Linked DNA regions of Homo sapiens. The protein of the gene in region 2 binds, or shares a complex with, the protein of the main gene of each other region. Each region holds a gene or a part of one and is shown on either strand. Other genes may lie near its edges. The genes, in order: SMAD7, NEDD4L, SMAD3 and AMOT. A codon is read from its position in the direction of its gene.

What was found.
Region 1: the proteins of NEDD4L (region 2) and SMAD7 are in contact, whole or in part, in an NMR structure (PDB 2LTY), measured with the Homo sapiens proteins. Residues at the interface, in NP_001138439.1 of Homo sapiens: Arg394, Asp396, Lys398, Arg400, Tyr402, Val404, Asn405, His406, Arg409, Thr410, Thr411, Thr412, Trp413; in NP_005895.1 of Homo sapiens: Glu203 (codon at 1,967), Glu205 (codon at 1,961), Ser206 (codon at 584), Pro207 (codon at 581), Pro208 (codon at 578), Pro209 (codon at 575), Tyr211 (codon at 569), Ser212 (codon at 566), Arg213 (codon at 563), Tyr214 (codon at 560), Pro215 (codon at 557), Asp217 (codon at 551).
Region 3: the proteins of NEDD4L (region 2) and SMAD3 are in contact, whole or in part, in an NMR structure (PDB 2LB2), measured with the Homo sapiens proteins. Residues at the interface, in NP_001138439.1 of Homo sapiens: Glu392, Glu393, Arg394, Lys398, Gly399, Arg400, Tyr402, Val404, Asn405, His406, Arg409, Thr410, Thr411, Trp413; in NP_005893.1 of Homo sapiens: Glu178, Thr179, Pro180, Pro181, Pro182, Gly183, Tyr184, Leu185, Ser186, Glu187, Asp188.
Region 4: the proteins of NEDD4L (region 2) and AMOT are in contact, whole or in part, in a crystal structure (PDB 7LP3), measured with the Homo sapiens proteins. Residues at the interface, in NP_001138439.1 of Homo sapiens: Lys202, Asp204, Leu206, Arg208, Tyr210, Val212, Asn213, His214, Arg217, Thr218, Thr219, Gln220, Trp221; in NP_001106962.1 of Homo sapiens: His235, Arg236, Gly237, Pro238, Pro239, Pro240, Glu241, Tyr242, Pro243, Phe244, Met247.

Annotation. Positions count from the first base shown.
Region 1 is NC_000018.10:48,947,852-48,956,281, forward strand, and holds the start of SMAD7 (mothers against decapentaplegic homolog 7), read right to left. Parts: upstream 3,115-8,430; 5' UTR 2,574-3,114; coding exon 1,961-2,573; intron 1,483-1,960; exon of another isoform or gene 1,378-1,482; intron 587-1,377; coding exon 533-586; intron 1-532. UniProt on the Homo sapiens protein: Antagonist of signaling by TGF-beta (transforming growth factor) type 1 receptor superfamily members; has been shown to inhibit TGF-beta (Transforming growth factor) and activin signaling by associating with their receptors thus preventing SMAD2 access.
Region 2 is NC_000018.10:58,396,423-58,402,660, reverse strand, and holds the end of NEDD4L (E3 ubiquitin-protein ligase NEDD4-like), read right to left. Parts: 3' UTR 1,122-6,238; downstream 1-1,121. UniProt on the Homo sapiens protein: E3 ubiquitin-protein ligase that mediates the polyubiquitination of lysine and cysteine residues on target proteins and is thereby implicated in the regulation of various signaling pathways including autophagy, innate immunity or DNA repair.
Region 3 is NC_000015.10:67,068,602-67,075,601, reverse strand, and holds part of SMAD3 (mothers against decapentaplegic homolog 3), read right to left. Parts: intron 1-7,000. UniProt on the Homo sapiens protein: Receptor-regulated SMAD (R-SMAD) that is an intracellular signal transducer and transcriptional modulator activated by TGF-beta (transforming growth factor) and activin type 1 receptor kinases.
Region 4 is NC_000023.11:112,837,196-112,846,020, forward strand, and holds the start of AMOT (angiomotin), read right to left. Parts: upstream 3,637-8,825; 5' UTR 3,257-3,636; exon of another isoform or gene 3,013-3,256; intron 2,756-3,012; exon of another isoform or gene 1-2,755.

The DNA.
Region 1 (8,430 bases), 9.4 Mb from region 2:
GAGAGGACTGACTTGCAGGTGACTGGAGCAGGAGGAACCTACCCCCCCCCCCCTTTTACTGGCTGTTGCCTATACTTCTGAAAAGTTCTAGTGTCTACTCCAGACCAAAGTCTTCTTTGCACCTTTTTAAACCGTCTTCCCATCTATCGAATCACCCTTTCCATTATTCCCACTGATGCTCCTGGCACTCACTAAGTCTCCGAGTTATCCCCATCAACCAGTCCTATTTGGTTCCCAAGACACTTCTCTCTGGACTAAAGCTTCCACGTGTTAAAGCTGAGCCCACCGGCTACACAGCACAAATACATGAAAAAGGAACAAAATGTAAAGCATATCAAGGGAACGTCTTTGCAAAAACAGCAAAAAACCCAGCCACAACAGAAAAATTCACCAAACTTCCAACAGAGGAAACCTAGAACCAACGTGAAGCCCAGCACCTCCCCAAGCCTTTGCCTACACACAAAAAGCCACGTTCTAGAGGCTCTATTTCTAACTTAAGATAAGCAGGATATTTTAAAAATCATCTACTCACCAGTTGGTTTGAGAAAATCCATCGGGTATCTGGAGTAAGGAGGGGGGGGAGACTCTGAAATTAAAAAAGCAAGAGAAAATAAAGGCCCAGCCATGAGAAGAGAGATAGAAACTTATGATAACAGAGGCATTCTTTTAGCCCAACTGTTTGTCTTAGCTGTGGGGGTTGGAGGCAGGGCCGCGAGGCGGTGATTGCCTTGATATTTAGCTGTCAGATAAACAAAAGAGGCCGCCTGGCGCCAGCCTCGGCGCTCCGCTCCTCCACGTCTGCGGCCGCAGCCGCCGCGCTCGGCTGGCCCGGCTGGAAACCACCGGCTCGGCCGGAGCCGCGCACTTCACAGTTCACAGGGCGGGGGGCGACCATGCCCCCTCCCCGTCCTCGGACTCCAGACCCAGCTCCCAGCAACCTCGGCTCCCCGCCCCGGCCCGCCCCCCAGGCGTGCAATTCACCTCTGCCCCCGCCGGTCCGCTCGGCACTCGCGCGGGGGACACGGGGCTGCCCATTCCTAGCGCACTCGGGAGATGCATCCCAAGCGTGCTGGGGAACGTGGGGGATCTGCGGGCGCCCGGGGTGAACCCTCACATCACACTCTGTGTACAGAGACGTAGAGTAAAGGAAGGAATGGAGAAAGCTGAGAGGATAAAAGGAAAGGAGTTTCAGGGTCTCAGCCGAGAAGCCCAGGCCCCAGCGCAGTAAGAGGCGACAACGTCACTGAGGCGCCGGGGCCCCACTAATCTACAGACTTATCTGTGCGGAAGGAAGGAAAAAGTAGGGGACACCCAACTTCTCCTGCCTGTTTGTTCCTCTGCACCCTGGGGCTGGCAGAGTTGAAAGGAGACAGATACCCAGTTCGGCCTTCCATCCAACTCTCTTTGCCCCAAAACTCCAAAGGTGCGCGGCCACGACAGTATCTGGGCCACTGGTGTTCGACGTGATTCTCCGTATTTACTAAAGGAGTAAATACGGAGACCTTCCAGCCTTTATAGCACGCCTCTCCCAGCCTTCCTTGGCGGGCCTGGACCAAATCCAACTCGGCCACACACCTCAACGTCTTTCCGGGTGCGGGGAGGCGTGACCCCCCCACCTCCCTCTGCACCCCCTTGTTGATCCGGAAATGAAGGCGTCTAATTTTTAACCGCAGACTGCAGGAGCAGTGCCCGTAGACCCCTTCGGGGCAACACAGGAGAAAACCTGGAAGGGAACCCCCAGGGAATGCCCTTTGAGTTTCCCCTTGTCCCTTCTCTACTTTCAGCCCCCAGTCTCTTCCCAGGAGGGTATGCACACTCTCCCAGGAGGGTATGCACACTCTCCCAGGAGGGTATGCACACTCCCCCTGGAGGGATGGCTGCACAAACGCACTGCCCTAGGGGCTTTTCTTCCAGCACTGGCGCTCCGGAAAATGTTGGGGGTAGGGGGACAACTTCTCACCTAGTTCGCAGAGTCGGCTAAGGTGATGGGGGTTGCAGCACACCAGCTCGGGGTTGATCTTCCCGTAAGATTCACAGCAACACAGCCTCTTGACTTCCGAGGAATGCCTGAGATCCGGCCACCTGAACACTTTGCACAGCAGGAGGGGGAGCGAGTAGGACGAGGGCGGCTGCGCAGGCTGCGCGCCGGCGGGCGCCCCCGGGCCCAGCCTGCAGTCCAGGCGGCCGGGCAGCAGGAGGCACGCGGTGCGCGTCCCGCCGCGGGACTCCACGGCCTGGAGCAGCAGCTCCAGCTGCCGCTCCTTCAGTTTCTTGAGCACCGAGTGCGTGAGCGCCTTCAGATCCGCCTCGGCGCCCCCGGCCGCGCCGGCGCCCGCGGCTGGCGGGTGGGGATGGTGGTGACCTTTGGCACCTCGCACCGCCTTGCCCAGGCAGCATCCAGCCCTGCCCGGGCCGCCGCCACCGGCCCCATGCGCTCGGCTGTCCGTCGCCCCTTCTCCCCGCAGCTCGCCTCCTCCTCCACCTCCCCCTGCGCCCTCCTCCTCGTCCTCGCCGCCGGGCGCACGGCTCCTCCAGAGACGCCGGACGAGCGCAGATCGTTTGGTCCTGAACATGCGGGGCGAGGAGGCGAGGAGAAAAGTCGTTTGCCTGCTAAGGAGCGAACATGACCTCCGCACACCATGAAGAAGTCGGGCGCCGAGTTGGGGCAGCAGGCGCAGGCGACAGCAGCAGCAGCAGGGGCCCGGGCAGGAGCGGCGGCGGCCCGAGGGGCGCTCCGTGGCATGCGCCAGTCTCCCGGAGGCCGGGGCGCGCGCGGGGGCCCGGGGGCGCCCGCCGGGGATCGGGGGCCTGCGCTCCGGCTGCCCCACCCCGCGCGGCCCGCGCCCTGCGCGGCTCTCCGGCCCCGGCGCGCCCCGGAGGAACCCGGCCGCCGCTTCCCTGGGGACGGCCGAGCCTGCCCCCGTCGGCGCCTCCCCAAAAAGAGGCCCCCCCGCAGTGGCTCCCGAATGTCGGGCTCGCCAGCCTCGGCTTCCTACATGGAAGGTCCGCGGGGGCAAAAAACGAAAGGCGTTCGGCTGGGCTGTTGGAAGAAGGAAAAAGCCTCTTTCCCCCTTGCTAAGCAACTTAATTTGGGGGTGGGGAGAAGCAGGCAATTAAAAAAAAAAAAGCAAGCGATTTATTTTTTTCCTCTATATCCTTAGTAACCGGATCTCCTCGAATTCCGCGCACACGAAGACTCAGGGGAGGGGGCCGAGTGGACTTCACCCCGCATGAGACGTCTGGCAAAATAAGAAGGCTCTCGCAAAACCTAACAACCAAATATGCAAAGCCCCAAATGAAAACCACCACCTCCTCGAACCTCAGAGGTCTGGGGGCGTCCGGCTGGAACTGGGGTTTAAAAAAAGAAAATGTTTACAAAGTATAACAAGATGTTTGATGGGTGGAAAAATGTATCCACGAGTTACATCCCCCCGTTTCCTTGCAAAGCCCCGCTGGTCTTCCTCTCCTTTTCTTCTGCCAAAAAAAAAAAAAAAAATCGTGTATTTTTTTAATCCACAGAAAGCTTTGGCTAGACCGCTTCAATCCTGCGCATCTGGGTGGTTTAGGGGAGTCTCTGGTCTTTCCCCCTGCGCTCCTGGGGGCCCAGGTCCTCGGCGGGGACTTCCTCGAGGCTGGCGCGGGCGCAGGGGCAGAAGATGCTGCGGCGGCGGCTGAGCCCGGCGGGGCTGACAGCGCGGGGGAGGGTGGCGCGGCGGCGGCGGAGGGCCCCAGACGGGTCGCGCGTTCTCGCCCCCCCCGGGCACAAGCTGCTTGCTAGTGCAGGGGCCGCCGATGTCCCTTCCCCTGGCCGCGGCTGGCCGCCGAGGCTCCCCGCATGGGCTGCTCGCCTCGACCCAGCTGCGGCGGCAGGAGGCCCCGGTGTCCTCTCGGCGCCTCCTCCTCCGAGACTCTCCTCGTCGCGCCCGGGAGCCTCCTTGTCCCCGGTCCGCCCTCTCCTGGCGCTCCGGTCCTTCTGCCGCCGCCAGGGGCTCGCCGCGCCGCACTCAGGGGCTCAGGGGCCGGGCGCTCGGCGGCTCGGCGCCGACGGACTGGCTCTGTCTCGGGCAGCTCTCTCCCGCGCGGCGAGCGGACCGAGCACGGCGCCCGGCTGGCTCGGCTGGCGCGGCTCGGGGACAGGATCTTCCGTGCGCCGAGCAGCAAGCGAGTGTGCCCGGGGCTCACCGCCTCCCGCAAGGCCTCCCGCCCCCGCCCCCTTCCCTCCCCCTTCCTCCCCCTTCCCTCCCCCGCCCCCAGCCGCCGCAGCCGCGCCGCCTCCTCCCCGCCCCCCCGCACCCCCCCTCCGGCCCTCTGCTCGGCTGGTTCCACTGCGCAGTGGCGCGCCCGGCTCCGGCCTCGTCACGTGGCCGTCTAGACACCCTGTCGCTTTAAAAAAAAAAAAAAAGCGATTGTGTTTCGCAAACAACAGATCGGGTTTCTAAAAGCTATTTCTCCCCCCAACCCCCCGCCACCGCCACCCCCTCCCGGGTCTGTAGAGGGGGTACCGATGGAGGGGAGAGAGATAGGTGGGGGGCAGAGAAGCTCCCAGAATGGATTGAGCCCCGGCCGGAGCCATGGAGAAATTGGAAAAGCAGGGAGCACCGAGCGGGCTTCGCCGCGAGTTTTGGAGCTGAGCGAGCGGGTCGGTGGCCCGATTTCGACCCGGCTGGGTTTCGCGGTGGCCATCTCGCGCGCGCTCGCCCTAGCGCTTCATTCATTGGTTTTGTTTTAAAGGCCCTGGCGGTGGATCCCTTGGCCGCGCCCGAGGGCAAGGGGAGGAGAGCGCTGTCTCGGTTTAAAAGACATTTATACCGGACTGGACCGAGGCCCTGGGAAGTGTGCGCTGAGGGGAACAGCCGCCGAGGGCGGGGAGGCGGCGTGAATATGACCTCAGCGGCGGCCGCGCGCTCCCTCCCGCCCTCTCAGCTCCGGGCTCCGGTTTCTAGGACTGCCTGGAGAAGTGTGTCTTGTGCACAGCTCTGGAATGCATTTGGCCGGCTGACGAGCTGTGAGGGGCAGCATCCCGGCGGGAGAAGGGGAGCGGGGGTGGGGGCTCGCCTGCGCGCCGCGGGCAGGTTTCCTCCCGGGCCCGGAAGACCTCCGCCACCCGCCACCCTGCCTCCCGGCGCGGGAAGGTTACCCAGCGAGCAGACCTGCCTAGGGCATTCATTTGCATGCAGGCCCTGTTTCTGGGCCTCGTAGCTTTCAAGGTGCTTAGAGTCAGAGAGTTTATTCCTTGACCCCAGGTCCCGAAGAAACATATACCCAAGCTGGCGGGTTACTGCATAGAAACGGGCATGGCATTGCTAGGGCATAAACGCATTTACAGCGTGAAAGCTGATGGCTCCGAGAAACGTAATGATTTAAATACACACACATCAGTATTGATGAGGCCACTAGTTGGCATGGTGATCTAACCTCACTTCATATTCAGTGAAATACGATTTTTTTAAAAAGCCATTGAGAATTGTGAGATCAGGCCAGCAGTGAAACTCGTTGGGGGCTTTAAAGAATCTTTTTTTCTTTCTTTCTTTCTTTTTTTTTTTTTTTTTAGAGTCTCACTCTTCACCCGGGCTAGAGTCCAGTGGCTCGATTTCGGCTCACTGCAGCCTCTGCCTCCCCAGATCAAACGATTCTCCCACCTCAGCCTCCGGAGTAGCTGGGACTACAGGCGCGCGCCACCACATCTGGCTAATTTTTGTATTTTTTGGTAGTGACGCGGTTTAACCATGTTGGCCAGGCTGATGTGGAACTCCTGACCTCAAGTGATCTACCTGCCTCAGCCTCTCAAAGTACTGGGAGTACAGGCGTGAGCCACTGCACCTGGCCTTAAAATAATCTTTAGAAAAGGTGAAATGTGCCCAGGTGCGATGGCTCACGCTTGTAATCCCAGCACTTTGGGAGGCTGAGGCAGGTGGATCACCTGAGGTCAAGAGTTTGAGACCAGCCTGGCCAACATGGTGAAACCCGTCTCTACTAAAAATACAAAAATTAGCCAGGCGGGTGGCGCGCGCCAGTAATCCCAGCTGAGACAGGAGAATTGCTTGAACCCGGGAGACGGAGGTTGCAGTGAGCTGAGATCGCGCCACTGCACTCCATCCTGGGCAACAGAGTGAGACTCTGTCTCAAAAAAAGAAAAGAAAAAAAGAAAAGTAAAGATGAAATGTACATCTTGCCGGCTAAATTATATGTTCTTAAAAGGAAAAGGCAGGAATGAATCTTAGCCGCCTTTAGAGCTCAAGTCCTCTCCCCCTCTAGCAATTAAAAAGATTTCTAACATATTAGTACAATAGTAGATGCTTAATAAATATTTAGAAATCAACACTTAGGGCTTAAGGGGCATTTGGACCCTTCCTCCACCCCACCAAAAGTACCTTTGGTAATATAAATTCAAGAGGAAATCAGCAACATTGCTTACATGATCATTTCCAGGCAAGGAGATCCTAACACTTATTGACTTGGAAGATAGTAGGATGCCAAGCAGTGCAGAACCCTACTGGACGGACAGAAGCTGCCATTCTGAACATTTACTGTGTAAGGCCACATAAGCTGCAGTTGTATAACATCATAATTTTGTTGTAAATTAAAATATGGCTTGTATAAAAGGGCATTGAAACCTTGTGTGTGTATTAAAAAAACATTCTAAGAAGCAACCTGTGAAGACAGCAGCTGAGAAAGCACAGGAGAGAATGGAGAAGGAGTGTAATCCCAGCACTTTGGGAGGCCTATCATGATAGGCAAGGGAAGACGAAAGAGACAGAAGTGGGATTTTTTTTTTTTTTTTTTTTTTTGAGATGGAGCCTTGCTTTGTCACCCAGCCTAGAGGGCAGTGGCATGATCTCAGCTCACTGCAACCTCCGCCTCCTGGGTTCAAGCAATTCTCCTGCCTCAGCCTCCCTAGTAGCTGGAACTACACGTGCACTCCACACCTCGCTAATTTTTTTGTATTTTAGCAGAGACAAGGTTTCACCGTGTTGCCCAGGCTAGTCTCGAACTCCTGAGCTCAGGCGATCCACCCGCCTCAGCCTCCCAAAGTGTGGGATAACAGGCATGAGCCACAGCGCCCGGCCCAGAAATGGGATTTTTAAGGTGTCTGGGAAATGTATCATATTTTCACCTTAGAAAGGCTTAGAAAGAGTACCAGACTAGAGGTCAGAAAACCTGATTCCAGGCTGGGGCGTTGCCGCTCACTGGTTAAGCAACTAGGGCCAACAGCAATCCCCACGTTAGGCGAGCACTTGGCAGAGTTTATAAGATTTTCTGGGCAAGTTTCCGCTCTCTAGGGTCCCATTCCCTCTCTGTTCTGGATCTCCCTAAAAGATCTTCACTTATTGAGAGTGGTCAGACCAGGCTTCATAGCAACAGAAAGGACTTAAATAAGCAGAGAAAGTAGAGGTCATAATTCTAATTCAGTTTCTTGGCTAAATGGAGAATCTGAAGAATCTTTTGGAGATCTGGCCAGTAGTGCTAAGGCTCTGTAATGAGAGGCCGGAGCACACACAGGGCAGGTAGGTTTCATGGGTGTTTCAAGAGTGGAGTCTGACGTCACGGTTTGTCTGGGTGGAACATGCATGTACTTGCAGAGATATGTTCCCGTATAGTGTAATTGTAGGTGTATTAATTCAGGTGTCACCCCTCTCTACACGGCTTTCCTCTTCCATTTTGCTACCCTAGGTAGAAGCTGGGTGCGGTGCTGAGCAAGTAGCTACAATGATTGGTGCTGCTTTATAGCTCCCTGGCATCCCCTGAATCAGTTAACATCCCAGCTTTCCTGATAGCCCCACCCCATCACATTCTTATCCCTCTCCTCTCCAAGAAAGAAGCCAGAAGCCTGGCAGTAGAGGAATTCCCAGCAGGCTGGTGTGCCTAGAAAGGTAGTTTCTTTCTTTCCCTTCCACAGGCACAAAGGAGGCCAACAAACACGCAGTTTCAGACTATTCTGACCCTTAAGAAAAAAGTTTAAGAGTTCACCAAACTATTGTGAATGAGTTTGATTCTAATCATTTGCTGGCAGGGAATATGGAATAAAATAGCTCATTTGCAGTTGTTTATTTCCTGTTGTGGCTTCTATTTTCATCTTTTAGTCGCTTTGGTGATAGTAATCAAACCCTAATCATGGTGCCGCCACAAGTCACAGAGACCAAAATAACTTGCAGCAGAGTTATGACAAACAAGGATGGAATCAGCTAAAGACCTGGCTACTTAATCACCGGCCACTGCCGCCCAGAGGACTGTGGGGCTGCCTCTTGACCGGCTGCTGGCTAGGAATCTAGAGGAGAGAGGAAGTCGAGGGAAGTTGCTCCAAGGCCCATGTTTTCTGAGCAGCCAGGGAAGGCAGTAGAGTGCACAGGAAGTGACCGAAAAAGCAGGTGAATTCTCCACACCTGCCAAGGGGAGAGGCAGGCTTCTGGAGGGGCCTGACTTGAGAGAGAA
Region 2 (6,238 bases):
GGTTAAAAGCGTATTAATCTAGCAACTGTGTCATTGATGTAATTCGTTCCACCATGTGTGGTTTTAAGAAAGAACATATAAATATTCACAGTGACTCTGTCCAATTGTGCCTCTCATGTGTACTCATAACCCTGGAGGAGGCGGCAGGAATTCCAAGTGCTGCGGACAGCTTTCTGGCAAGATGCCATCTACTGTTAATGGAAAAAGACAAGCCGCAAGAAACCAAAGACTAAATGATGTCCTGCTTCCCCGCTAGCTATCTCCTCTGCCCCGAGGGGATGGGTTAAGCACATCAAGAGGAAGCTCAGTACTAAAGAAAAAGGGAAAATTCTCCAGGAGTCTGAGATGATCTGAGCGGAATGAAATGGCATGAGGAAAAATGCCACCGGCTTTGCACAGGGCAGTGACACACGGTCGGGATTCTGACAGCACCTTTCTGAGAAGCAACTTGGGGATTCATTATTGAGTCTTATTAACTCTCACACAAGTTGAGGGCTAGGTATACAAGGATGCCTTTTGAGGAACAGACTAACATGGATTATACAAATGTTACGTAAAATCAGTAATTCTCAAGTTTAATAAAAGAACAAAACAGCAGACGGATAAGAATAAATGTGCATCCTTTTAGTAGGCTTAAGCCATGTGTTTTGGGCAGACTTTTTTTTTTTTTTTGAAACGGAATCTCGCTCTGTCACCCAGGCTGGAGTGCATGCAATGGCACAATCTCAGCTCACTGAAACCTCTGCCTCCCGGGTTCAAGCGATTCTCCTGCCTCAGCCTCCTGAGTAGCTGGCATTACAGGCATGCGCCACCACGTCTGGCTAATATATATATATATTTTTTGTATTTTTAGTAGAGATGGGGTTTCACCATGTTGGTCAGGCTGGTCTTGAATGCCTAACCTCAGTGATCTGCCCACCTCAGCCTCCCAAAGTGCTGGGATTACAGGCGTGAGCCACTGTGCCCTGCCAGACTTTAATGTTTTTAAAAGTGCGGCGCTTTTAGGGAGATGAAGGAAATGAACATACTATAAATCTGCAGGCATTTAAACCCCTCTGACAACAATTAAGATGGTGCATTCACAAAGAAGCTTTAAATCAAACAACCCATAACACTTGATGTAGAAAATGTTCCAGCTTCCATAATTCTTTATTAAATATTTGACAAGTTGCATCGCTTCTTTACAATGACTTCATTTTGTCACATTAGTCTTTTGCTGTCAGGAAAACAATCTACAGTTTCTCTTTAGATCTCTCAAGAAAAAAGAAAAGCGAAAGGATTGTTCTTCAAGAAAACTTCCTGTGTGTATCAAATTCAACCATATTTTAAAGCTATTCTGACTGTGAAAATGAGCATTATTCATAAGTTGCCTTAAAAAAATTCAAGGTAGTTTGGTTTTTACCACTGTATCAAATAGTACTTGGCTTCCTATTAGGAGGTGGGTTTATAATAAAAAGTTATGAAACATTGATAATTTATTTGGAATGCTTGAAACTCTTTTCACCTTAAAAGTCACTGTTTTTTTCATGTTTCATTTGATGATAGATCCTGAATTAGGAAATGACAGCAAATTAACATCATCTTCCTAGGGTTTTCTTAGGCTCCAAGGGTTGAAATTCACAGGACACAGCTTGGAGAAAACTGCAGAAGGGACTAAACTCTCACCTCCTTTCGAAACCAGATTACTCAATAAAGGTGTAAAAATGCTATACAAATATATACAAATATATTTGGACAGCATATGTACGTATATATGTATATATATTACATACAGAGTAGTAAAGGAAGAACAAAGTCACGCAAAGTTAACATGAAGGAAACCGTGACAATCTAGGTGAAATCAGTCTGAGTAAAAGGGGAAAACTGGCTTACACGGGAACACATATCTGCAGACACAGAGTTATGGTCACGAGGAAGGCTTCTGATGATGCACTGGTACGGGGTTGAGAATGCAGTGCACGCGAGGTTAGGCGCCAACAGCAATGCTACTCCTTACACACAGAAAACCAACGAACGGAAAGACGTGCCTTTGAAACATGCGTTGCTTTCAGTGGAACATCTTTAACAAACAACAGATGTTTAATGAGGTTTGCTTGGAAAATTTCATGCCAACAGGAAGCTAACCCTTTTCTAGAAAACGTTCTCCAAGCTCCCGTCCTAATGCTGTGGCACTTTCTCTGACATACTGAGAACACTCTGGGGTGGGGGTGTGTGTATGCAAATGTATAGACACTGTTCATTAAGGCTTATATAAATTAAAAAAGTGGTCCAAAGAATATCACATTTTTCCCCAGTTTTAAAATCTAAAGTACAAAGTGGAGTTTATAAGGATTTGTTTTTTAAAAACACATCTCAGTCCTGAAATTGGCAGTTCTGACACGACTTATCAGGATGTACCCCAATGCCTGAATGACAGAGGTAGTGATCTTCGGGGTCAGGGGAGGTCAGGAAGGGAGCAGGCGGGCAGTTACCCTGCACAGCGGCACCCTCTACTGGCGAGGCAGCAAATGATACCAGACAGCACCTCCCACCTCTCCCTCTTAAGTACAGGGGTGCAGGGCCAGGGTAAGGAGGAGACAGAAGAAGGAGAACTAGCACAGTGTCACGTAGGGGCTGCAGAACTGATTAACCCAGGCTCTCTTTATACGTTTTTAAATTTCAGAGGTGAGTACAAGACTCTCAGAAATACAGGAGTCGACTGTTAATGGGTAACTGTTAGAATAATTAAAAAGTTGCTGTGTATGAACCTGGCTTTCGGGAGGACCAGTGTGGATCTGGCAAGATAGCAGCGGTGCACACTCTCTATGCAACAATGGGAGATGTAGAAAATGGTTCAAATGTTTTGCATGCTGTTTCTCAGAATCTGTCACTGTGAGGCCGGGTGCGGTGGCTCATGCTTGTAATCCCAGCACTTTGGAAGGCTGAGGCGGGAGGATCACCTGAGGTCAGGAGTTCAAGACCAGCCTGGCCAGCATGGTGAAACCATCTCTACTAAAAATACAAAAATTAGCCAGGCGTGGTGGTGGGTGCCTGTAATCCCAACTATTCGGGGAGGCTGAGGCAGAAGAATCGCTTGAAGCCAGGAGGCAGAGGTTGTGGTGAGCTGAGATTGAGCCACTGCACTCCAGCCTGAGCTACAGAGCAAGACTCTGTCTCAGAAATAACAATAATAATCTGTCCCTTTGTCCTTACATGGGAGAAATAATACATGCCAAGTCGCTCTGTATCCCTCATTGTCTGAATTTAGGGAATATCTGATGTCACCTTCTGAAGGGTCCTGGAAACAAAAACCAAGTGTCTTACCTTTGTTCTTGAGATTTGTTAGAGGACTGGCTGCAGAGAAGCATAAACATTTCAGGCAAAAAGGAAAAGAGCACTGAAGCTGGGAATACACCGCAACACAGACAATGAATGCCTCACTGCTGCCGGCTCCAGGGCCAGCAGTGGAGAGGCACAGGCTGTTGGACCTTCATCCCACCAGGTGCTCTTTCCACATCCTTCCTCGGGCCAACAAGGGGCAGGAATGGAAATACCCGGGACCCACAGGCAGCTGTGATAACTGATGTTAAGAGAACCGCAACAGGCAGTGTGTGAGCTCCGGCACGTACTTCTCAGCCTCATGTAAGTGGCCCATAATAACTACAGCTTCAGCAGACAACTAAAGAGACTGCATTAAGGTGATTTCTCTGGCTATAAAGAGAGCCCGGCCTGCAGAGCAGTGTGACTGCTGGGACCTCTGGGATAGGCAACACTGCCCTCTCTCCCCCAGGGCTACTCCCCGGGCAGGTCGGGGCCCAAGGAATGACCCAGCAACTGCTCCTTACCCAGCACACTCTCTTTACTGCCACCTGCAATTATGCTGTGAAGATGACTGGGTGTGGTCATCACGATTCAGAGAAATCAAGATCTATGACCATTTTAGGCAAAGAGAGAAACTTGGAGAATTGCTGAGGACTACTGAACCTTGTTTTGCTTTTTTAAAAAATACTAAATCCTCACTTCAGCATATTTAGTTGTCATTAAAATTAAGCTGATATTATTAAGGGGTTGATGAACTGAGGTGTCACTCACAATTACTGCCTTCCAAGTATTCATGGGGTAGATTTCAGTAATTCTTGTTTGCTTCTGGCTTAGAAATTGTCAGAATGATTTTTCTTTTATACTTTCCAATACTTGACTTAATATGCATTTAGTGACATTCTGTTTTTTTCAATATACGGTTTACAAGATGACAGAAGAATCCCAGTTCTTAGGTTAGAATTGGATTTCTCCCTCTACAATTACACAATTACTCTCAAAAACCAAGAAAGCATACTGCTCGACTCAGGCTCTGGCATGATTCTTAAAAAGAAAACTGCCTCTAGACTATGGGGGCTTACAAAAAGGGGATTTTTGCCACTGAGACATTTGTCATGTTAACTGTAGCGGAAAACATCTCACCAATAGTCAAAACTCATGAGCGGGAATTTTTTTTTTTTTTTTTTTTTTTTTTTTTTTTTTTTTAGTTACATAGCATCTAAGTTTTCTGATCACTACCAGGTAATTTTCAACCAATAAGAAAAAGGAACCAACACTCAGCTCTGTAGAAATCTACCTTCTTTTAGAAACCTCAGGCCTCTGCACCCCTTTAGACAACTCATTTACAACCACAACCTTCCATGGCTTCTCACATGCCAGCCAGGGCAGGGTAAAAACGGCAATTTCTTACACCGAAAGGTCCTTTTTATGTAACAAACAGACCTCCCCAAACCACAACTTTTTTGTCCTATTGATGACTCGCATGAGATCAAATCTCTAGTGTCCCCTGACTGCCCCGACAGGGTCTAGGACAACACAGGTTAAAAAGGACAGCAGGGTCGTTCAACTCCCACACTGCCTCAGGTGTTTTCTCAAAGCACGACAATTCTGCAATGGAGACTTACACGTGGAAAAGAATCAAACTGTGCAGGTACCCTCAGTCCTCTGCCACTACCAGCTCAATAGCTTGAGCTCAGAGGATCAAGTCAAGTCTCTGTCTCACTTTTAATCTAGCACACAAGAGGCACAACTCAGGCAGTACACGGTATTGAAGCATGCAACAGGTCATTGGTAACAAAACTCAGTTAGATTAAGAGTACATTAAATAAATCTTTGTAGTTGAGTAGAAATCACAAAACAGTTGGTGAGGACAGGTCTGTAGGCTCAGCTTTACATCCAGGTTTTTATACACCAGCAGCCAGATTCACAATTGATAGATATTGCACCGGAAAGATGTGTGCAGGGAAAAGAAATCATCATCACATTTAATGTTCATGATAAAAAAATAAAAACAAAACCAGATATGACCTCCATGTAGTACATAAAGTGCCTTCAGAATTGGTGCATTTACAACAAAAACTGGTTATTTAGCTACCATTAGCAAACGCATACAAACAGGAGACTAAACAGATCTGGTTTCCACAGTTTTGAATCAAGCAGTGCCAAGTTTCATTCAAAATGTCTCTACTACAAACAGCAAAGAGGAAATAGAATAAAAGATGACTGTACAGCGCCAGGAAGGGTTAAGTAATTTCTCGGATGAGAAATGGGAGTCCAACCCTGTCTCAAATGTGTTAGAACACATGTAATTACTTCTAAGGAATAATGGTGTGATTCCTTTCAAGTCAACACAAAATTTGTCATGCTATGTTACAATTCTCTCAGCCTGTAGCTATTAGCTAAATTTGTACAAAAAAACCCCAAAACAAAAACGTAATATCCAGTTTTTCATTCTGAGTATGGAAAAAATTATCATTATGTCTAATATTATATTGGAAATTCTCTCAAAGTACTTGTCTGTAGGTTTTTGGACAAAAATTTGCCTTCCAATTCTAATAAAGTAGAGGGTGGAGGTGTCAGAGTACTTCAAAAATAAAAATGTCATTGACATTAAGCCTGGTATGAAAGTGAAATACAAAAAAAAAAAAAATGCTCACTTTTCCAAGTACATGAGACATCTTTAATCATAACGAAATAAAATCTGAAAATCGGTCTAAATCATTTTAAAAAGTAAACATGAGTCGTAATACTATACCTGTTGAGTGATTAATTCCATTCATTGTCATTAGAAAGGATGTAAAATATTTATTAAGGGCTTTGCCTGCAGAGGCACAACATAAATAGCATTAAGTCCTCCTGAAATGTAATTAGTGTACACATCAACCAGTTGATAATTTGTGGTGGGAAAGGCAGGAACTCAAGCTGGGACCAGGTTCCCGCA
Region 3 (7,000 bases), on a different chromosome or scaffold from region 2:
TCATCCTCATTTTACAGATGCAGAAACTGGGGCTCAATAAGTTGAAGCAAAGTACCCAAGGTCACCACATAGCTAATAACTGTCAGACTCAAACCCAAACCCATCAGACTTGAGAGGCTTTGCTCTTTCTGCCCAACTGTGCTCTTCCTGTCCTCCCCCTCTCCTGCTCCCCAGGTAATATGTGAAGAACCTGTCTGGGTAGAGACAAACAGCCACACACAAAATGTAAAGGGTTGGCACAACAAGCAGTAATTCACTCTGCCTTCCCATGGGCTGGGAGAAATTAGACCCACCTTGAGTCTGACTTCAATAAGGGTAAGAAAAAGTTTACAACCAGGAAGATTTGAAGCAAAAGGAAAAACCCAATTTCCATCACCAGTGCCTGCTTTCAGCCACTTGTAACTACTCAAAAAGTCCTTTCTGGATTCATTACTCCACATTTGGGCTTAGCCCAGAGGTGATTTTTTAAGGAAAAAATGCCTTTTGGCATTTTTGAGCAGTGACAGCGTAAAAACAGACCTTTAAAAAACACACACCCAAAAAGCATTACTATTTTCAAATGTCCAGTTGAAAAGAAAAAAAAAATGGTGACACCTCAGAGTTACAACTTGGCTTGGCAGTTTGTGATGCAACACTTAGCAGCAAAAGGGACCAGATTCATAACTCTGTAGGTTTCAAAGGCAAAGCCATACACAGTGTTTCTTAATACTGGAGTCCTACCCCATCTCTACTAAAAATACAAAAATTAGCTGGGCATGGTGGCGGGCGCCTGTAGTCCCAGCTACATGGGAGGCTGAGGCAGGAGAACTGCTTGAACCTGGGAGGCGGAGGTTGCAGTGAGCTGAGATCACGCCACTGCACTCCAGCCTGGGCGACACAGCAAGACTCCGTCTCAAAAAACAAAAAAAGAGAGAGACAGAGATAAAGAAACAAACAAACAATACAATACAATACTGGAGTCCTAAACTACCGGCAAAGCACTCAAGAGAAAAACTTGCCAGATGTAAGCTGGGAGAGCCATGTGATACTGAAAAAGAACTATTTAGGAGGAAACTCACTTTTCATTTCCTAGTTGGGGTTTAAACTTGCAACATCCACGCTGCCTAACAAAAGGCTCATGCTTACGCAATCAAGTGCAGCCTTTCTTTATATAGATGCTTGGAAATAAATAAAGGAAGCTTCCTGGGTAAACTTTGACATATGAGCAAACATTTTCCACAGGTATCCTCTATAATGCCTACCTCTTACATTTAACCATTTTTAGGCATCTGTGGTCATTAGTTTAAGTAAACTTCCTGTTCTTAGAATAGTCAAAAATAGCAACAAAAGAAGAAAAACTGTTCACTGCATCTCAAGAGGCACAGCCTCCACATCTTCATCCTAGCATTATTTTCATATTCCTTTGTAGTTAAATTTCACTGATTTAGACTCACAGAGTAAGGAAGAGGCAAGGAAGAGGGAGGGAAATCACCAAAATTAAAGGCTGAATTACAATTTTATTATTTTTACTTATGTAAATTAATTGACACCAGGCTGATAGAGTCTTGGAACATCAATAATTAAGAAAGATCTGTCATTCACTGATCAACTAGATGCGTGCAACTGGGAGCTTTTAAAATGTTTGTATGTGGCCGGGCGCGGTGGCTCAGGCCTGGAATCCCAGCACTTTGGGAGGCCGAGGCGGGCAGATCACTTGAGGCCAGGAGTTGGAGACCAGCCTGGCCAACATGGCGAAACTGGTCTCTGATAAAAATACAAAATTAGCCGGGTGTGGTGGCACATGCCTGTAATCCCAGCTACTCAGAAGGCTGAGGCAGGACAATCACTTGAACCTGGGAAGCGGAGGTTGCAGTGAGGCAAGACCGCGCCATTGCACTTTAGCCTGGGCAACAAGAGCGAAACTCCATCTCAAAAAATAAAATAAAATAAAATAAAATGCTTGTATGAATACCAATTCCAAGTTAGAAAGGCCCTCCAATAGAGTTTATCTAGCCTATTTTCCAGTTGAGAACATTCGAGGCCCAAAGAAGGTGACTTGTCCCAGGTCACACAGCTAATCAGAAACAGAGCCACGTCTAGAACCTACCAAGGTCTGCTGACTCCTACCTCCAAAATAATCCCCAAACTCTTGTTTATTAATTTTTCTTTGACAGCATTTATGGGGCAAAAAGGCCTGCTAAACAAACTTTTGCCTAGTCCAGAATTAGCCAAACTTCTTAATTAATAGGCTTCTACTGTGTTTTCATTTTAAACTGAGTCTCTGCCAAAACATTCTACAGCAGTTGCCACTGTGGCAGGCTGCTGTTTATAGGAAGGGTCTTAGATAACCAACAGTGGATAGTATGCTATAGATTTGTTTATTTCTCAAACTGTTAAGTCGAAACAAAGGATTATGTTATACAGAGAGAAAGAGAAAGAGAGAGAGAGATCCTTGTCAAGTCAATAAACTGCAGAGCTTGGGGGATGTGGTTTGGCACCAAAAAAACAGTATTTACAAATTAGCTAAAGAGTGAACACATACAGCATTCTTACAACTCCAAAGAACCTGTGTTTCACAGCCAGTGGACTAGAAGCTACAGAAGGCACCAGGGACAGTATCTGCCTTATTCACTATTTTGTCCGCATTATCTGGCACAGAAATTAGCACCTGGTACGGCATTAAAGGAAGGCATAAAAATGAACTGGACAAGTTCTCTTGGAATTGTCTCGGTTCTAAAGCTTAGAACACAGTAAAATTAGAAACCAAACTTCTGTAGGGTGGGCTTAGGATGGCAACTTCCCACTGTTTCCAGGAACCATTGTGCTTGAAGATGGGAAGACTGAAGGCTCCATGGCTCAGGGACTTGTCAGAGGCCAACAGAAGGTCATACCCCTCCTTAGGGAGGAGTTAGTCCCATCCAACACTGCACCAGCCATTCACGTCTGCACATGGCTGGTGAACTTCCACCCCCTGCACATTCAGCAGGCTGCCATCATGAGCAGCCTTCTTGGGCAGTTCTCTTGCCAGCCAACCAACACTATGAGATGGGGATTTGGGGGAGGGAATGGAGTCTTTAAGTTTTGCTTTTGTTTTAATCAGTCAATATGGCAAAGGAGAAAAGGGCAAAAGTCAATTAGGACTATTGATGAGACTTGCTGATTAAGAAAACTGCATTCCAATCTTAGAGAACTTAATTGCAATTACAGGAAGCTGAAGGAGAGGTGAATAAAGGTGGGAGAATAAGGTTAACAGGAATGAAAGCTGATTCCAATTTGAAGCAAGCCCTGCTTGGTCTTATTTATTTCATTAAGGAGCTCACGCAGAATAATGGCTGTACTGTGCATCAAATGGCATTAAAATCTCCTAATAAATTAACAAGTAAAAATTAATGGTCGCTCAGTTCATTAAATCGTGTTAATTTTATTCCATTATAATAATACAGCAATCACATGTTTACATTATTAAACCAATATTTATTTTTTAACTCATTTAGTTGGATTCCTGATGTGATAAGCTTGAAACAAATTCTTTCAATTTCATCAACTTCTTGCATTTCTCATCAGAATTAAATGCGACTGTATTCATATTTTTCTGTTATTAAAATTGTCATTTAAAACTTCACCCTTGCAAAGACTTTTTAAAAAATATACCACTAAAAGCACCTATGTTCATTCAGAAACTCAGGCGTCTAGGATTTATTCTCAGCAAGTGTTAACTAGAGAAATGAGAAGCTAGGTCACACCGAAGCTTTGAATTTCAAAACAACCATCTGCAAGTTGTCCACTTTTCATTTATTTATTTATTTATTTTGAGACAGAGTCTCGCTCTGTCGCCCAGGCTGGAGTGCAGTGGCGCGATCTCGGCTCACTGCAAGCTCCGCCTCCTGGGTTCACGCCATTCTCTTGCCTCAGCCTCCCGAGTAGCTGGGACTACAGGCGCCTGCCACCAAGCTCGGCTAATTTTTTTGTATTTTTAGTAGAGACAGGGTTTCACCGTGTTAGCCAGAATGGTTGTGATCTCCTGACCTCGTGATCCGCCTGCCTCGGCCTCCCAAAGTGCTTGGGATTACAGGTGTGAGCCACCGTGCCCAGCCAAGTTGTCCACTTTTTATTAACACTCCCTGTCATATTCTGAGCTGATACATCTAAAGTCCCTGTTCCCACCAAGGAAACCTGAATTTCAGTTTGCAGTACTAACTTACTTTTTACTTCAAAGAGAAAATGCTTTACAGTGGAGTAAAATATAGCACCCAAGTCACTAGCTGTTCAGTGCCAGTTACAAGGTAACATATTTATAGCAGCACTCAGTTTAGTAAAAGAGGATAAAGACGTCCTCATTCTTATAGGGAACTATCCCCATGTACCAAAAAGTTCCCAACATCATACTGCAGTCCAAAAAGCTTCCTTTGGATAACCCTTGTCCCCTTCTTAGTTTTCCACCTCTCATGGGTTCTCCTCCTCTCTACACCTCCTCCCACAGAATTAACTGTGTTTCCACATTGCTGGGCACTTAGCACATTCCTCAGCTGCAGCTCATGCCTCATACCTTTGGGCAAGTCTGTCTCCCGCTCTAGACAGGGAGCTCTTTGAGTACAGGGACCCTGCTGTGGTCATTGTAGTATGTTCTCAACGAAGGACTGAATAATTCAATAATGAATGAATGATGCAGAATGAAGTATAAACGTAACATACCTGTCAAATTCTCTGGTTCACAAAACACTTCCACAGAACTTATCTCATCCTGACTTGACAGGTGCAGATATAAAAGCTGTGAAACTTAAATGGATTCCCAAATCCTTGCAGGTGGTAAAATGGCAGGTACAGGACCTGAATTTTGTGTTTTTTTCAGAAAAAAACAGATGCCTGTCATTATTTTATTTCCTAACATAGTGAATTCTACAATATTTAAAAGGCACATCAACGCCCGCCCCCATCAAAAATCATCCATACTAGATCTCATATTTCTACTGGTAGCTGGGAATGAGAAAGAGATAGCAGTTAGATACTCAAATAATGCCCTATTCATGTTTCCCTTACTGATGTGTAAGCTTCTCACAGGCTGGGAGCTTCTCAAACGTGTCTCTGCATCCTCCTCTGGTACCTAAAAAATTGACTCAGACATGGGAGGGTCCAATAAATATCAATAAATCAACAAAATCCAGCCCTGTAACAACAGAGGGGCTGTCTGCAAACATTCCACTCCCAGGTGCAAGCAGCATGTTCCAAGGTTCTAAATGTTCCCAGGGAACGTCAAGTGGCGCCTAGGTTCAGCTGCAGCTGAGTCAGATCCCTCATCAGCTACCTATTGTCCTGCAGGCACCTCCTCTTCTCAGGCCCTACGTGGAACTCCCCTAATCAAACTTAACAAGAGCAAAGAGATAATGGACCACCTCCCTAGCAGCTGGAAGGGGGCTTGCTTCCAATGGGCCACACGGGCATGGTGCTCTGAAGTGCAGCCAAGAGAAAAGGGAGGCCTCTACAGCCTTAGTAATAGGTCTATCCCCAGAAATCTGGAAAAGGCATGTTAAAGACTAGGATCTTTTTCCTTTCTCAAAGTGAGAGTACCCTGGCAAAAGTCAAGGAGATAATAAGAGGAGGCTACAGTAAAAGATCAGATTCGGTGAGGCGCGGTGGCTCACGCCTGTAATCCCAGCACTTTGGCAGGCCAAGGCGGGCAGATCACAAGGTCAGGAGTTCAACACCAGCCTGACCAACATGGTGAAACCCCGTCTCTACTAAAAATACAAAAATTAGCTGGGCGTGGTGGCGGGCGCCTGTAATCCCAGCTACTCGGGAGGCTGAGGCACAAGAATCGCTTGAACCGGGAGGCAGAGGTTGCAGTGAGCTAAGATCATGCCACTGCGCTCCAGCCTGGGCAACAAGGCAAGACTCTGTCTCCAAAAAAAAAACATCAGATTCACAGGGAGGGAGTAGATGCTGTGTGTCAGACCTAGTGTTTGCTTCAATTCTCCAATTTTCCACTGGACTGGGTGCTCTGACACAAGAAAGCCCAAATTCCCTTCCAAACAAGCAATGCTTTAAGCTTGGTCTAGCTCCCAACAACGAGGCCAAGGCATGGATTCCCTGGTGGAAGTACAAGCTACCAGTGTCTACCAGAAAACTAAGTTTTAAGTGTGCCGAGCTCCTTATTCCTCATATAACGCTCACACACCAACTCTCATTCAGCGGCAAATGCTTTGATTCCATTCTTATAAACTGGCAAGGAAGATACCTGCAGCTTTACTCAGGTACTCAAGCAGGTGAGGCATGAGAGGCTGTTATAAAACTTGTGTAAATTCTGCCAATCCTGCCAGACCTCAGAGTATCCTGACAGCCCCTTTGTTGGTGTATCTAAATGAAGCTCTTACCACTTCCTTGGCACCAATCTCTTTCACCTTCTTTATGTCGATAAGTGTGTATCACGCCAGCTCCCCTGATAATTGAAACAAGTCAGAGCTGGTGTCACAGAGAAGCAAGCCTGTGGTCTGGAAGTCCCTAGTATACAGCTCTAATTGCCAAATGTTGCTGTTGCTGCTCATGATTATATATTAGCCAAAACACACTTGGCTTAATCTCCTTAGACTGAGGGCTCCTTAAACCCCGGAGTCCAGATCTTGCAGAGTGTTTTTAAGCACCCAGTGACCAACCCCCCACACACAGGGGGAATGACTAAGTTAAACATTTTCCTTTCTCTACTTTCCAAACTAAAAGGCAGTTGTGGTGAAAGCAGACAATTTGACAAGCAACACTGCAATCTATGGGGCTTAGCAGACACATTGATATCACCAGCACAGGGCCAAACCAGCCACCTCCCCAAGACGTGGCCTTTAGTTTTCTGCCCACGACCAAAACAGCAGCAGCTGTTGCCAAGGGACACAAGGTGACCCAGAGGCGTGGGCACAAAATCCAAGGATGAAAATCCATTTTGTCTGGATCCACCCAAGCAACTGGGTTTCCCTAACTGAAAAAAAAGATGAAAAAAAAAATCTACTTTTGTATTCAGTCCTATCCAGGCAGGCAG
Region 4 (8,825 bases), on a different chromosome or scaffold from region 2:
GGCCAGAGCTAACGTGGCCAGCATTATTACAAGCCAGAATGATTTAGACAATTAACTAACTCCATTCCATATAACAAAAAGATTTCAAAGGCCAAATAATGGCCTCACTTAATTTAAGCGATAATCATTACAAATTCTTATGTATTCCTTTATGCAATAAATATGCTTCCGAGAAGGCCCAGTTAGAGTGAATTTTTATATATCAAGTCATAGTTTAAAGGCACTAACTAGGAAAGCTAGTACTTACAAAGAAAACCTGTTGTGGATTCTTTTATAAAGCAAATGACCTCCTATTTTCTTTCTTTCTTTTTCTTTTTCTTTTTTTTTGTTCAGATTGTGTGTGTTGTGTGTGGAAGGGGCGACTTCCCTCCTTTCTCTGGGTTAAAAGGGGTCAGAAGCCCACCATGGAGGAGAGTAATGCAGTATGGCCAGCCTGTTTAATACCCCCTTAGTTCCTGGGACAAAATTCTAACCTTTGACTTGGGGGTGGAACCCTAGAATTTGGACCAAAGTCCACAAAAGGCAGCAAGGAGGGAAAAGTAAGTAAGACTAAAGACAACACATCATAGTAAAACACCAACAAAAATTCCTGGGGACAGGAAATCAATGGATCACAATTCTAAACAAATTGGTTTAGTCCCCAGCTAATTAACTTGTCAAGCAGATCACTAAACCTACTGAATCCATGGGAGAAAGAGATGATGTAATAGGAGATTTGGAAACATTTACCCATTTACCATCCTAAAAGGCTCCAGTACGACCACACACACCTCTCCCCACCCCTTTCAGTGTTTAAGCTGGGCTTAATGGGTGCAAAGGACAATTTCTACCAGACAGTCCCCAAGAATAGACTGTTCTCATGCATTCCAAATGCTCAGTCTCCATGGAGGAGGCTACCTGGTCACAAGCATTTCCCAAGAGGGAATATATCCTCTATTCCTCCTCATTGGTAACAACTCCCCCACTCCACCCCCACGCCCCAAACAAAACAAAACAACTTCTAACCATCCTGAGAACTTCAGGGGACTTTTCTGGGGTAAAGGAAAAGAAGCGTTAAGAGGGGAACAGGAAAGTGTGAGAAACCCCTCTTGTCTCCAAATGGAAAAAAAGGCCTTAAAAAGCTGGATCAAAGGAAGAAAGGGGGATGGGGAAGAAGGGCCGCTTAATTACAAAGACACCCTTTTAAAGAAGGCGCAGGCCCTGGGAGAGGGCTCTTGGGAGAGGCACAGAAGCAGATGTACCCACTTAGAATTCTGGCACTCAATGGGACCTCAAGGTCATAGTATCCATCCCCCTGCCTTCTGATTAGGCTATTCTTAAAGCATTCTAGAGTCTGATGCAGTCTTTACAAAACCTCAGAAAGAAAAAGCAACTCTACAAATGTCCTTGTTGGGAATTAGTCTAATAAATCAAACTTCATAAACCAGAAATGAAATTTTAATTTCCAAATCCAAAACTGCATTGACTATGAATTATTAAAATTCCCTTTCTAAAATCTTTTAAATAGGTAAACAGATCCACAAATTTCATGTAAAAGTGACTCCACATACAATTGTGGTCAGAGGTTTACTTCACATCTAGACTGTGAAGGTAGAAAAAGCACTTACAATTTTACAAAGCCACGAACTTTTCCAAGGAAAGAAGTAATTTAAAATGAAGTATGATGTAGTGCCAGAAAGTGTCTGTCAATGACGCCGGATAAACCCATACAGAATAGTTGGAACCTTAGTTATCATCTGTAAATAGAGGCAACTACTCTACAACCACCTGGCTGTTAAAATGTCCCAGGCCAGTTATAAAATGTAGTTTGGTCAGGCCAGCTTTTCCCTCCCAGCTGATCTGAAACAGGATAGCCTTTAAAATTGTCGCCCTTCTCTACCTTCCTACTTTCCTTTCACTCATTAAAATCAACCAAAGTTATTTTAAAATGTATGTTAATAATGTGTTCCCAAATAAGCAATGGGTTAAGGACATCTCAGTAATAAGTCTTTGAACACCATCACTTACAGGCTTGACGCACTTGTCCAATTGAAGATAGGTGGGAGATGGATGAAAATGTATACCACATCCAAAATGGCATTTCAAACTATTCTTAGCTACTAAATGAGGGTGCTGAAAGGTCTAACTGAGAAGGCTTCACAAAGGCTGGCCTGAGAAAGAACTTTTCACAAAGCCTAGCTCAAGGAGACTTAAATATCCTTAGCCCTTCATCATTGAAGATTATGGTGACTAATTATCTTCTTCTCTGAATGGGAGAAGAGGGTTATATTCATAAAAGTTTTAAACTGCCTCCCAACGTCCACTCTTCATGGCGGGGAGGGAGGAGAACTTCATGCACTAAACATCCCAGGTTGTTGAAAAGTTCGTTCTAAAACATACACTAGAGATTGAAAATGCTGTTTCTCACCAACTTTCTCTTTCCTTGCTCATTTAATTCTACTTAGTCCCTTTATGCAAATTATTATATTATTATTAGTGGCAATCTACCAGGAACTGCTCACAGTCTATTAAAGACTGTTATTTTCCCTCCCCCTTTTCTTTCTCTTCATTTTCACAAACCCATGAAGCCCATCTTACTGTTGAAGCACCAATGTGCAGTGGCCCAGGCTTGGACCCTCAAGACACCCTCAAGATCCCCCAAAACTATTTACTAACATCTTTGGATCTTCTAAAGCAGATAGGGGCAACTCCCTCCTCACCACCACTATCACTACCACCACAAGCACTACCACCACCACCACACATCTCAAAGAGTAGCCTTGTTTTAGATTACACAGACTTTAAAACTTCAAGAATTCACGGTCCTACCCCTCCTGCTCCCGCCTCAGGGAGTGTGAGTCCCCACCCCAAGCCTAAGCACTTAGCAGAAACCTATCTAGTTATCTGAGATAAGCACTGACATGCATGCTGGGCTAAATGTAGATTTCAGCTTCCCTCGGGTCTTTAGCTCCTCAATGTGATTAATTACCTAGAGACCCACAAGAACCCCAGGAGGTAAAGAAGTAAAAGTACCATCTAGTAGTGGTACCCACTAGCATCTCCTCACCGAAGTAGGACGGGAAAGCAGCGCACACTCTAACCGATTTAACTTGCTGCACATCCAAAAAAACTCATGGCGAGCTGCAAAGAAAGTAGAACACACGGGCATTCCCACACGCGCCTAGATCGATTCACTCACGCCGAGGGCACGACCAAGTTCATGCCACCATGGATTCCTGCCCCAGTTCCCCGCGAAAAGTAACCACGCGTCTCCTACCCCTGAAGGCAAAGAAGACAAGGTGACGACTCTCTGCTCGCTCAAGTGGCTTCGGTCCCGGGCCAGCGGCCAGGGATGGGCAGGGGGGAAGCCCCAACTCCCGGCTGCTCCCCTCCTCGCTGCTCCGTCCGGGCTCTCCTTGGTGGCAGCGGACAGGCAGGATACCGGGCCAGAGGGTGGAGCAGCGGATAGCCGGAGGCGAGACTGACTGGAGGTGGTGGTAGTTGAGGGGGAGGCGGAGAGAACTAAGAGAAGAGGAGGCGAAAGAGAGCGGAGATGGAGGAGTAATTCAGGGGGTCTACCAGTTTAGGCAGCCAGAAAGCTCCTCGGAAGGAAGGGGCGTGACTGCCAAGGCAGCTCCTGGGCAAAGGATGGGAGGTAGGGGAGGGGGACGAACGGGTGGCTTTTCTTCTTGCGGTGAGCGGCTAGGACCGCCCCGGAGCAGGGCGGCGGGAGGGGTGGACGAGGGAGGAAGGCGGAGTAGAGGGCGGGGAAAGAAGGGCGGGAGCCTGCCTGGACCCTGGAAGTGAGGAGTGAGGGGAGCGCGGAAGAGAGGCGGGGCCGGGGGGCGTGGAAGTTTCAAACAATTGAACCGCGGGGTCCGGGAGCTCGGGCGAAAGCAAGGGACCCTCGCTCTCGCCTTCCCACTAGAGGGGCACGACTCGGTTGCCGTAGCCGTGAGAGTCTGCGCGGGGACTGGCTGGGAAGAAGGAAAGGGTTTTGCAAAAGACTACAATAATAATCTGCGGCAACAGCGCGGCATAGACGCGTGGGAGAGCCAGTGCAGCTCCCCGCCCCACTGCGGGAGGAAGAAAAACAAATAATAGAAATGCTGAAAAGCAGCTTCCACCAAAGCCTGCTTAAAATAATGCAGGAAGGAGAAGCGCTCCTTCGTTTTCCTTCCCCTCTTGCTTCCTATTACCAGCAGGCCCCCACCCAGGTCACAGCTCTGCGAGACACCCTCCTTTCTTCCTCCGCTCCCCCGCCCCGGGCGCTTGCCCCCCTCCCGTTGGCGGGCCGCAGAAGCTGAGGGGCGAGGGAGGAGGGGTCGCGGGCGGCGCTCCGCGGAGGCTCCGCCCCTGGGCGGGCTGGGAGCGCCGGCCTGGGCGGAGCGCGTCCCTGAAGCGTAAGTCCCGCCCACCATTCTTTTGCAGCTACCGGTTGGCCCAGCCTGGCCTAGTATACGCTTGCGATTGGGCCCTGGAGTCGCCAGTCTGATCCCTTTGTCCCACCCGCCCTCAAAATTAATAAAACTAAACAAGAGGCTATTGTGTAGTTCTATGTTCTACCCCAGCTACTGCTGGCAAGAGAAAGATGAGACGCTTTATTTCTCAGTCTCATAAAAGAGTGCAACAGTGTGTCGGCCGACTCTGGTACGCCTTTATGTTTATGGCACTGTCCAGCTTTCTGCGAATAGGTAACTTTTCTTCCCCCTTAGTTTATTAAATCAGGAGGGGGGAAAGTACATGAAGTGTCATTGTGGTGTTCTGCTGACTGTGAAAAAAGCTGACATTGGTTAAAAACGAGAGGGTTGAGAACAGCATCCTGGGACACGGAAAATCTACCATTTTACATCTAGAAAAACGAAGGCACAAAGAAACAGTGTCAGGGTAGCAAAATAACATGGAATTTGGAACCAAAGGAAGAATTCATTTGGGGCCCTGGCACTTACTAGCTAATTGTATGACTTCTGTTAAGTGGCTTAACTTCTCAGCCTTAATTTTTCTACCTGTAAGTAAATGCTGTAAGACATGCCCTATTAACTTAAAGGCACTGGTATGAAAATAAAATGTGTGTGAAAACTATAAAGCACTCCACACATGTATGTGTTCCTACTTGTGTGTGAAACATAATGGAGAGTCTTAGATGTGTTAGAGGATCAATATTTTGCTCATCTGTTTTAAGCATTTACATCCAAGGTCGTGTAGGTTTTGTGGCTTTATTTTAAAAAGTCAACTCTTTTCCTACAATTTTGGGGGTGGATATGAAGTTGACTCCCTGCAGTTAGAATAATAAATTACCCCTTTTCTAAGCAGGGTGGGTGAGATTTCTTTTTTAAAGTTCTACAATTTCATGACAACTTAAAGCTATTGTGGTTCTGGTACTGAAAGAGGAAATCATGCTGTGTATCTCCGAAGTGAACTTAAGAAAACAAATATGAAGGAACATTTACCATGGAAACCACCATTCTCTACAGATCCATATTTCCTAGAAAACATTTCAAGTAGGAAGCAAGCCTAAATGTAAACGCCTTGACAGCGCAAGGCCATTATAATGGCTCATGCCAATGAAAGAGTGACATCCAATTCAAGCCTGCCTAATGGGAGCCATCTGGGGGGCCATGGATCAAGGCATGCAAGAGGAAGTGTGCTTAAAGGAAACACTATCACACAGTAAACAGGGGCTCAGAATCCAACTCTGCAGGAAAAGTAGTGGACTATTGCATGTCATGGAGTGTGCAGCATGCTCTGCTAGGAGCTGTGGAAAGATTCAGAAGCAGGAGTGTGCACAAAATGATTCTCGTTATGATTCTGTTTATGTATGAAGTGAGGTTATTTGGGTGATTTTTCATGGAGAAAGTGAGTTTTTGAATGTTCAAAATATGGAGACACCTGGTTTGTGAAGCAAGGAAAGGTTATTTCAGCCTTGTTATTTGGAGTGGACAGGAGAGCTAGATGTGGGGGGGCGGGTATATGCTGCAGGACTACTACCAATCACAGAGGCAAAAGGATATTTGTTAAAATCAATGCTGTCCAAGTGAAAAAAGTTAAACATGCACATGGAAGAATTCAGATAAAACGGTACTGGGCTGGGCACGGTGGCTCACACCTGTAATCCCAGCACTTTGGGAGGCTGAGGCGGGTGGATCACTTGAGATCAGGTGTTCAAGACCAGCCTGATCAATATGGTGAAACCCCTTCTCTACTAAAAATACAAAAATTAGCTGCACGTGGTGGCATGCGCCTGTAGTAGCAGGTACTCGGGAGGCTGAGACAGGATAATTACTTGAACCTGGGAGGCGGAGGTTGCAGTGAGCTGAGATCAGCCACTGAGCTCCAGCTACTCGGGAGGCTGAGACAGGATAATTACTTGAACCTGGGAGGCGGAGGTTGCAGTGAGCTGAGATCGGCCACTGCGCTCCAGCCTGGGTGACAGAGCGAGACTCCGTCAAAAAAAAACCAAAAAACACCAAACAAAAAGGTACTGAAAGACTACAGTGAAAAGTTCTTCTCCACCACTCTGCTCCCATAGTCCCATTCTCTTTATGACTGTATGTCATCTTCCAAATAGATTATTTGCATATTCAAGCATGAGTGCATATTCCCTTTTTGTTCCTTACAAGTGGGATCATTAATCAAGGCACACCTTGCATTTGTTTACTCAACAATGTATTTGAAATATTCTTCCATCTCAGGATAACTATGTTTACCTTATTTATTTTATTATAACTCAATATTCTATTGCATAGCTGTGCCAAAATTCCTTTACTCATCCCCTTATTAAATGGGGATTTGGGAGACAGACACGGTGGTGGCACACGCCTATAGTTCCAACTACTAGGGAGGTTGAGGGAGGAGAATCCCTTGAGGCCAGGAGTTCAAGGTCAGCCTGGTCAACATAGCAAGACTCTATCTCTAAAAAAAATGGAAGCAAATTTGGGCTATTTCCCATCTTTTGCTACTACGGAAGATGCTATTTAAAAAAATCCTGGTAACAAAGGCCTGGTGGCTCATTTGTAGTATGCCTGCCCCTAGCCTTGAAGTTGCCTTCAAAACACTTTTCTAACATGCTTTCCTTTCCCCACAGCGACTTATACTGTGGAGCAATGGAATTGGAGCAATGGAAACCTCTAAAACACTTAATTCGTTTAACATCCGCTCCTCAAACCCTGCTTGGGCATTACTCTTCTCCAAATTTTGATGGAGTAGAGTTAGCAGAACTCTGAACTTAATGGTGAGTCAGGCTGTGTGTGAGTCATTTCTTAACCTGTGGCAAACAGCTTTTTGGTACTTCTGTTTAACCCAGGTCTTCCAAGCCTTCTATCCTGCCATGCAAGACTTCTTTGTTTTCACCCTGAAAACCTTTCAGTTTGTTTAAACCGAGTTTGGATTTAAAGCTGTGCATTGCCTGCACTACTTAAAAGAGAGGGGGAGGGGGAGGCCAACATCAACAAACATCGATTGAGCCGCTATTATAGACAAGACTGAAAAAACAAAGAGGCATGAGACTTAGCTCCTGCCTTCAAGGATATAAACATAAAAAGACAACTAACAAGCATGTGCTAAGTGCCAAATGAATGGTATTGACAGTAAAAGCTGTGGAAGTTAAGAGCAGAGAGTGAAAACTAGTTCCAGAGAGTTAGTTTATACAGCACACTGTGCCACACACATTTAACTAATCCCCACAGCATCCCTGTGTCTTCATATCCTGACTATAAAGTATAGAAAGCCCTCTGGGGGAGACCAGGAGAATTAACCACTAGCTGTAAAACACCTGTGTAAAGACACTGGGTTGCCTAGATACTACACATTAAAAACCTCCATATAACGATATGGAAAAAAGGAGGATCATTTTAAGCTCAGAAGTCAAGATTCCACATCCCAAACTACCTGTCCTATTTGGCCTTTATTTTTTTTTCTTAAAATACACCTTTATTGCACAATAAAAATCAATATCTGTGCTGTACAAAATAAAATCCATTAAAAAAATCAAATGTCTACCTTGAAAACATTACACAAAATGAAATAAGCCAGATACAAAAGGACAAATATTGTATGATTCCACTTACATGAGGGATCTAGAATGGATAAATTCATAGAGATAGAAAGTAGAGTAGTGGTGATCAGGGGCTGGAGGAAGAGGGAGTGGGAAGTTAGTGTTTAATAGTACAATTTCTGTTTGGGATGATGAAAAGGTTTGGAACTAGATAATGGTGATAGTTGTATAATATTTTGAATGTACTTAAAGCCACTGAATTGTACACTTAAAAATTGTTAAAATGGTAAATTTTGTTACGTATCTCTTACCACACACACACACACACACACAAACACACATGCACACACACAAAAGCTAATAACCCTTAGGCTTAGTGTCAGGAGACAATGCCAGTGATAGGGGTTGCAAGAAGGCAGAACCCATGTGAAAGGGGCAGCCTGATCACCACTACAGGGAAATGCAGGCCAATGTGACCACAGCTTCTGATTTTTCAAGAGAAACCAGAAGTCAAATGTTTTTAATATAAAATCTCCAGTGTTTCATGTTGCCAACTAATAAATGTCTTAATTAAAAAATCTTCCCTTTGTGTGCAATATTTTTGTCCAACGTACAGGAAAAGTAGGAAGGAGTGTATAGCTTATGGTCTATTCCCAATCCCTGGCCAGATTCTTCTTGAAGGAAAGATGATAAAACCATAGTGCTTTGCATTGAATGGCATTCTCCCCCACTTACCAAGTGAACCAGGAATATGGAATGTGCACATCTTCCTCTAGTTGCCTAGTGAACAACTAAATGATTTAAATGCATTTATGAACAAAAGCAGAGGCAAGCACGTATACGAGAAAAAATA